Linked DNA regions of Homo sapiens: region 1 is linked to region 2. Evidence: fine-mapped expression QTL. A gene starts in region 2. The other region holds a variant in brackets. All regions are shown on one strand. Distances are between the middles of the regions. Region 1 overlaps KANK2 (KN motif and ankyrin repeat domains 2). Region 2 holds the start of KANK2 (KN motif and ankyrin repeat domains 2).

Evidence for each region. PIP is the estimated chance that this variant, and not a neighbour inherited with it, causes the effect.
Region 1: its variant is the best candidate, but not a certain one, in a credible set for the expression of KANK2 in gastroesophageal junction (GTEx, PIP 0.87).

The regions. Positions count from the first base shown.
Region 1 is chr19:11,167,102-11,171,101 of GRCh38, reverse strand. It overlaps KANK2 (KN motif and ankyrin repeat domains 2), which reads left to right. Exons shown (of 13, transcript NM_001136191.3): 11 at 854-1,054; 12 at 1,136-1,225. Among named protein-coding and RNA genes, the nearest start is that of SPC24, 13 kb to the right of the region's middle. The variant C/G (reference allele first, on the strand shown) is at 1,595.
Region 2 is chr19:11,195,051-11,199,309 of GRCh38, reverse strand. KANK2 (KN motif and ankyrin repeat domains 2) reads left to right here and starts at 1,765. Exons shown (of 13, transcript NM_001136191.3): 1 at 1,765-1,825; 2 at 3,490-3,688. It overlaps DOCK6 (dedicator of cytokinesis 6), which reads left to right. Exons shown (of 48, transcript NM_020812.4): 48 at 1-15. RefSeq lists a silencer at 1,282-1,901.

The DNA.
Region 1 (4,000 bases), 28 kb after region 2:
GCTGGGCACGATGGCTCACGCCTGTAAACCTAGGCGGGCGGATCACGAGGTGAAGAGATTGAGACCATCCTGGCCAACATGGTGAAACTCTGTCTCTACTAAAAATACAAAAATTAGCTGGGCGTAGTGGCACACGCCTGTAATCTCAGCTACTCAGGAGGCTGAGGCAGGAGAGTTGCTTGGACCCAGGAGGTGGAGGTTGCAGTGAGCCGAGATTGCGCCACTGCACTCCAGCCTGGTGACAGAGCGAGACGCCATCTCCAAAAAAAAATAATTAACCCTTTTAAAGGAACAATTAGCCTGGGCAACATGGCAAAACCCTATCTATACAAAAGATACAAAAATTAGCCAGGCATTGTGGCGCATGCCTGTAGTCTCAGCTACTCGGGAGGCTGAGGTGGGAGGATCACCTGAGCCTGGGGAGGTTGAGGCTGCAGTGAGCTGCGATCGTGCCACTGCACGCCAACCTGGGCAACAGAGCAAGACCCTGTCTCTAAAATAAAGCAAAACAAAACCAAAAGCACTACTGGCATGAAATACATTCACCCTGTTGTGCAACCAACACCTCCGTCTAGTTCCAGAACGTTCTCTTCACCCCCAAAGGAAACCTGTATCCATCATTTCCTCCGCCCCCGCTTCTCCCAGCCTCTGGCAACCACTCATCCGCTTTCTGTCTCTGTGGATTTATTACTCCCCTGGTGACGGGAGGGTTGTTTGAGATTCAGGAGGAGATCAGCAAGTTGAGGGTACATTTCACCATCAGAGTATGTGGGAGCTACAGCAGGTTCTAGACCAGGGGGTGTCCTGCCCTGGGGCCTGCATGAACCATAATCCTGTTCCTTGCCCTCCCCAGGCAGGACAGACGGCCCTGATGCTGGCCGTCAGCCACGGGCGGGTGGACGTTGTCAAAGCCCTGCTGGCCTGTGAGGCAGATGTCAACGTGCAAGATGATGACGGCTCCACGGCCCTCATGTGCGCCTGTGAGCACGGCCACAAGGAGATCGCGGGGCTGCTGCTGGCCGTGCCCAGCTGTGACATCTCACTCACAGATCGCGTGAGTCTCCAACCAGGTGCACCCCGGGGAGGGCGGGAGCACAGCATGGGGACGTCATTCATAGCACCGGATACTTTGCAGGATGGGAGCACAGCTCTGATGGTGGCCTTGGACGCAGGGCAGAGTGAGATTGCGTCCATGCTGTATTCCCGCATGAACATCAAGTGCTCGGTGAGTCTCAATCCGGCCGGGTAGGCACGGGATGGGTGGGTCTCTGAAAGGACAGAGATTTGTTGTTTTTGTTTTTGAGGCAGAGTCTCACTCTGTCGCCCAGGGTGGAGTGCGGTGGCACGATCTGGGCTCATTGCAACCTCCGCCTCCCGGCTTCAAGCCATTCTGCTGCCTCAGCCTCCTGAGTAGCTGGGATAACAGGTGTGCACCACCACACCCGGCTAATTTTTGTATTTTTAGTAGAGACGGGGTTTCACCATGATGGTCAGGCTGGTCTCAAACTCCTGACCTCGTGATCCACCTGCCTTAGCCTCCCAAAGTGCTGGGATTACAGGTATGAGCCACCATGCCTGGTCTTGTTTTTGTTTT[C/G]AGACTGGGTCTTACTCTGTCACCAAGGCTGGAGTGCAGTGGCACAATTAAAGCTCACTGCAAACTCCACTTCCTGGGCTCAAGTGATCCTTTCACCTCAGCCTCCTGAGTAGTTGGGACTACAGGCGCACGTCACCACACCTGGCTGAGTTTTTTTTGTTTTGTTTTTTGAGACAAAGTCTTGTTCTATCACCCAGGCTGGAGTACAGTGGCACAATCTTGGCTCACTGTAACCTGTATCTCCCAGGTTCGAGCAATTCTCCTGCCTCAGTCTCCAAAGTAGCTGGGATTACAGGTGCACACCACCATGCCCGGCTAATTTTTGTATTTTTAGTAGAGATGGGATTTCACTGTGTTGGCCAGGCTGGTCTTGAACTCCTGAGCTCAAGTGATCTGCCCGCCTCTGCCTCCCAAAGTGCTGGGATTACAGGCGTGAGCCACTGCACCCGGACATTTTTTAACATCTTTTGTAGAGACTGGGTCTCACTATGTTGCCCAGGCTGGTCTTGAATACCTGAGCTTAAGCCATGCTTCCTCTTCTGCCTCTGAAAGCGCTGGGATTACAGGGGTCAGCCACTGTGCCTGGCCAGAGGAGACGGATGTTTATGAAGAGCTGATTGTGCATGGGGTTCACGCTAAGGATAAAGTCAGAATATGGTCAGCTGCTTGCTGAACCTTCATAGTGCCCCAGTGAGGAAATTAGTCACAGAGAGGCTGCATGGTCATGGTTGGCATAACAGTATTCACGCCTGGGTCTGTCTGGTTCCAAATGCGTGTCTTAGTCACCATTCACTCATTTGAAAAATATTTATTGAGCGCCTGCTGCATGTTAGGCCCAGTTCTAGGTAGTCCCCAGTGGTCACAGCACTGATCAAAACAGAAAACAGTATCCACCCTTATGGAGTGAGCATTCTGGTAAGAGACACAATCAGGCTGGGCGCGGTGGCTCACGTCTGTAATCCCAGCACCTTGTGGGGCCGAGATGGAAGGATTGCTTGAACCCAAGAGTTCGAGACCAGCCTGGGCAACATAGGGAGATCCTGTCTCCCCCAAAAATACAGGTGCATGCCTGTACTCCCAGCTACTCGGGAGGCTGAGGCAGGAGGATCACCTGAACCCAGGAATTTGAGGCTGCAGTGAGCCATGGTTGCATCACTACATGGTGACAGAGTGCCGCCTTGTCTGGGAAAAAAAAAAAGAAAGAGGCCAGGCGTGGTGGCTCATGCCTGTAATCCCAGCACTTTGGGAGGCCAAGGTGGGCGGATGATTTGAGATAAGGGGTTCAAGACCAGGCTGGCCAACATGGTGAAACTCCATCTGTACTAAAAAAACAAAATATTAGCCGGGTGTGGTGGCGCATGCCTTTAATCTCAGCTATTCTGGAGGCTTAGGCGGGAGAATCACTTGAACCCAGGAGGTGGAGGTTGCAGTGAGCCAGAGATCATGACATTGGGCAACAAGAGCAAAACTCTGTCTCAAAGAAAAAAAAAAAAAAAAAAAAACAAGGACGTGGGATGGCGAGTGATGGGGAAGCTATTGGAGTCCCTCAGAGAAGAGATGACATTTGAGTCAACACCTGGAGAAGTTAGGGAGTGAATCACATGGTCTTCCGGGCAGCAGGAACAAGCAGTGCAAAGGCCCTGAGGCAGGGGTGTGTCTGACGTGTTTAAGGAGCATTCAGGCCAGACTCACTGGTTCACGCCTGTAATCCCAGCACTTTGGGATGCCATGGCGGGCAGATCACCTGAGGTCAGGAGTTCGAGACCAGCCTGGCCAACATGGTGAAGCCCTGTCTCTACTAAAAATACAAAAATTAGCTGGGTGTGGTGGTGGGCACCTGTAATCCCAGATACTCGGGAGGCTGAGGCATGAGAATTGCTTGAACCTGGGAGGCAGAGGTTGCAGTGAGCTGAGATCGCGCCACTGCACTCCAGCCTGGGTGACAGAGTGAGATTCCGCCTCAAAAAAAAAAAAAAATTAGCTGGGCCTGGTGGTGCATGCCTATAGTCCCAGCTACTCGGGAGGCTAAGGCAGGAGGATTGCTTGAGCCCAGATAGTCAAGGCTACTGTGAGCTATGATTGGACCACTATACTCCAGCCTGGCAACAGAGCAAGACCCTGTCTTTAAGCAAAAAAAAATCTAGGCCGGGCACGGTGGCTCACGCCTGTAATCTCAACACTTTGGGAGGCCAAGATGGGCGGATCACCTGAGGTCAGGAGTTTGAGACCAGACTGACCAACATGGAGAAACCCCATCTCTACTAAAAACGCAAAATTAGCCGGGCGTGGTGGCGCCTGCCTGTAATCCCAGCTACTAAGGAGGCTGAGGCAGGAGAATCACTTGAACCCAGGAGGCAGAGGTTGCAGTGAGCTGAGATCATGCCATTGCACTCCAGCCTAGGCAAC
Region 2 (4,259 bases):
GGTTTTTATAAGCAACCTGTGCCATGTGGTGCGGTCACTAGGGGCTGGGTCACATGCTCATCACATGCTCACAGTCCACTGCCCCATATCCACACATCCCTGCATCATCAATGGGGACACCAAGAACATACTGGGTGCCAGGGACATCGTGGTGACAACAGGCAAAAATTCCTGCCCTTGTGGAGCTGATGTTCTAGTAGGGAAGGCAACACACAAATAATGTCACATGCTTACCTGCAATAACAATACCTGGTTTTTGTTTGTTTGTTTTTAACAGACGCTCTCACTCAGTCCCCCAGGCTGGAATGCAGTGTCACAGTCATAGCTCACTGCAGCCTCAAACTCCGGGGCTCAAGCCTCCTGAGTAGCAGAGATTATAGGCACATGCCACTGTGCCTGGCTTTTTTTTCTTTTTCTTTTTTTTTTTTTTAGACAGAGTTTCACTCTGTCACCCAGGCTGCAGTGCAGTGGTGCAATCTCGGCTCACGGCAACCTCCACCTCCCAGATTCAAGTTATTCTCATACCTCAGCCTCCCGAGTAGCTGGGATTACAGATGTGCACCACCATGCCAGGATAGTTTTTGTATTTTTAGTAGAGAAGGGGTTTCACCATGTTGGCCAGGCTGGTCTTGAACTCCTGACCTCAGATGATCCACCCACCTCGGACTCCCAAAGTGCTGGGATTACAGGCATGAGCCATTTCTCGGCCCCAGGTGGTTTTTTGTATTTTGTTTTTTGTAGAGATGGCGTCTTACCATATTGCCAAAGCTGGTCTCCAACTCCTTGGCTCAAATAATCCGCCCACCTTGGCCTCCCAAAGTGCTACGATTACAGGCATGAGCCACTGCGCCTGGCCTAATTTTTTTTCACTTAAAAATTTTTTTGCATAGACAGGGTCTTGCTATGTTGCCCAGGCTGGTCTCGAACTCCTGAGTTCAAGCAGTCCTCTTGCCTTGGCCTCCCTAAGCACTGAGATTACAGGTGTGAGCCACCTCGCCGGCTTAATAATATTTATTAAGCCCTTGCTGAGTGGCTGGCTGTGTACTAAAAGGGCTCCCAGAAAGATCTCTGCAAAAGTAGGCCACTCCATTTATGAGAGTTTTTAACCCGAAGGGCCTCCTTCCTGATGGTTAGGCCCCTTCCTAATGGTCAGTGAATCTTCTCAACGCTCCTATCAGGTAGCTAACATGATCATCTCCATTTTACAGATGAATAAACTGAGGCACAGAGCAGCAAAAGTTTGGTGGGTCTGGGATGGGAATGCAGGTCTGGCTGGCGCCGGCGCCCAGGACTCTGCAGCCTCCCTTCTCGCGCGGCGGTCACGCCACCGTGTGCCAGGACTGCGCTGGGCCGCTTCCAGCCCTGGGCCGCCTGGGGGAGGGGTGACCTCCCGCTGCCGCGCCCGCCCCGCGCGCCCTCCCCGAGCTGGGCCCCGGCCAGCTCCACCCCCTCCCGCCGCCGAGCCGTTCCGCCCCCCGCAGCGGCCCAGGGACAGCAGGCGGTGGGGGGGAGGCCGGCAGTGGGAGGACCCTGCCTCGGGGACTTAGGGAGGAAGGAAGGACGAGGCCGGACACCCCGGCGCGCACACACACCTGCTGTCCAGGTGAGATCCAGTCTCCAACCAGCGTCTCTCCATCCCCACCCCCCACCGCGGCCGGGGCGCCCGGGCGGCTGGAGGGGGCGGTGCCGGCTGGGGGGGCGGGACCAGCCGGAGGGGGCGTGGTGCGGGCGGAGCCACCTCCGAGGGCCGGGCGCCCAGGCTGCGGCGCGCGCGAAGACGCTCGGGCGGCGGGACCCAGGGAAGGCAGCGGCCGGAGCGCGCAAGGCGAGTGGGACCCGGGGCTGGGTAGGGGTTCAAGTCTGGTTCGGGGATCGAGTGTGCACCCCCTCCACACACACCTACTACCCTACCCCCCGCCTCCAACCCTGGGACACGACCTCGCTGGTCTCAACGAGCCGCTGCCTCCAACTCCACCTTCTGTGCCCAAACTTTCCAGACTTGGAGTGTCTGTCCCCGCGTCCCTGCCCCCTCCTCGTCTTTGACCCCATACCCCCATCGATTCCTCCCAGTACCCCCCATCGATTCCTCGTGCCCTGCCCGTTTCTCCTGTCTTGGCTCCCCTCTGCCCGCTCTCCCCTGTCTCTGTCCCACTTTCTGCCTCTGTTCCTCCCCGGCTCTGCCCTCTCCCCGCACTGTCCCCCCTCGCCCTCCTCCGCGGCCATGCCCCAGACGGCGGGAAGGCGGCCGGGCGTCCGGCCGGGCTGGGCCTGGGCTTGGCGGCTGGGCCGGCGTGGGGAGCGGCAGCTGTTTGCCATTAGCCCGGGATCCCACAGGCCCCGCCCCCTCTCTGCACGGGGCGGGGTCCTTCTCGCCTCCCCCCACCCCGAGTTTGGGGCGGGAAGACCCCCCCCCACCACCACCACCGACCTCCGCGATGTGCAGGCCGGTCTTGGGTGGTGGGTTGGGGAGACCCGCGCCCCTTCCCTGCGCTCCCTACCTGTCCCCTCTTATAGGCTCCAGTCTCTCCATCTCTGTCTTATCCTGTCACCCCTTCCCCATTCCCCAGGGGTCCCATGGCGAGAGAAGGGTCTCAGCCACAGACATCCATCTCCCCCACCACACCCCCTCGTCTCCTTTCTCTTCCCCTTACTCGGGACGTGCTGGTCCTCATCGAGGGCGGTGAGATGACTGAGTACCCTCAGACCTCAGTCTCCGTATCTGGGAAACGGGTAGAGATATCTGATGTGGAGTCTGAGGGTGGTGGCTTGGTGGGCAGTGGGGGGATCCACCAGGCTTAGGTTCATGTTCAGGCCCAGCCACTTCCCCATGGCCCCAGTGACCCCGAGGAAGCCACTGTACCTTTCTGTACCCTCTGCATCCCCTGTCTGTGAAACGGGGCGATAAGTGCCCATCTCATAGAATTGTCATGACAATTAAAAGAGTTGATGTTAGGCTGGGTGCAGTGGCTCATGCCTGTAATCCCAGCACTTTGGGAGGCCAAGGCGGGCGGATCACCTGAGGTCAGGAGTTCGAGACCAGCCTGACCAACATGGAGAAACACCATCTCTACTAAAAATACAGAATTAGCTAGGCGTGGTGGCAGGTGCCTGTAATCCCAGCTACTCAGGAGGCTGAGGCAGGAGAATCGCTTGAACCTGGGAGGCAGAGGTTGCCGTGAGCTGAGATCGCGCCATTGCACTCCAGCCTGGGCGACAAGAGCAAAACTCCGTCTCAGAAAAAAAAAAAAAAAAGAGTTGATGTTAGTATTACTGTTACTATACTATTTACCCAGCAGCACCCTCACTTCCCCCACCCCCAGCCCACCCCGCTCGGCTATTCCAATCCTGCTCCAATCCCGCTTGCTCCCTGCTTCTCCATCTCTCTTTGGTGGCCAGAAAATATTTTCAATCAACTTTCTGTTGCTCAGGGGTGAGCCTCCAGGCAAATGGAAAACGGAATTTCCTGCAATTGGTGACCATGTGTTCCAGGTGTTGAAAGACAGAGAAGCGAAGACAGAGACGTGGAAAGACAGGGAGAGAGACACGGAGAGAGACGCAGAAGGACAGAGACGTGGAGAGAGACGCAGAGAGACAGAGACGTGGAGAGACACAGAGAGACGTGGAGAGACACAGAGAGACTTGGAGAGAGACAAAGCAAGACAGGACGGGAGAACAAGGACAAGCTCAGGTGCCCCTGGAGCCCCAGCCCTGCCTTCATGCCCAGCAGGTGCCCTACCTGGCCCATCCTCCCAAGGTACCTGCCGGCCCCAGCACTCAAAGGCCAGAAAGGATTTACTCTGATGGTGGGATGGGCTGGGGCCTCTGCAGCATGATGGCTGGAGGTCAGATAACAGAAAGGACCAGCCAAGTTCAGATGGGTTATATTGGGGACAAAAGAGCCCTGGCCGGCCTCCAAGGCTGAGGGGGGTTTAGTGAGAGGCTCTGACTGTCCCTCCCTTTTGCAGCCTCCAGGCGCCCCCTCTTACTTCCTCCCCTCCACCCCCAGGACTTCCTGGGCCTCCACCCGGCCCTCTATCCCTACTGCGCCCCTGGGCCCGGACGCATCCTAGGCGGGCAGGAAGTTCTGTGTAGCCCGGCAGTGAAACTGTTTATTTTTAGAGAAAATTGTTTCCATAAAGGGGAAAGGCTTCACTCCTAGCTGCCTCCCCAACTTTCCCTACCCCTTCCCCCCGACCCAGTCCAGGCCTGACCCAGCTCTCAGCTTTGGGGTCACTGGGGGTCCCCTTCGCCATGCTTTG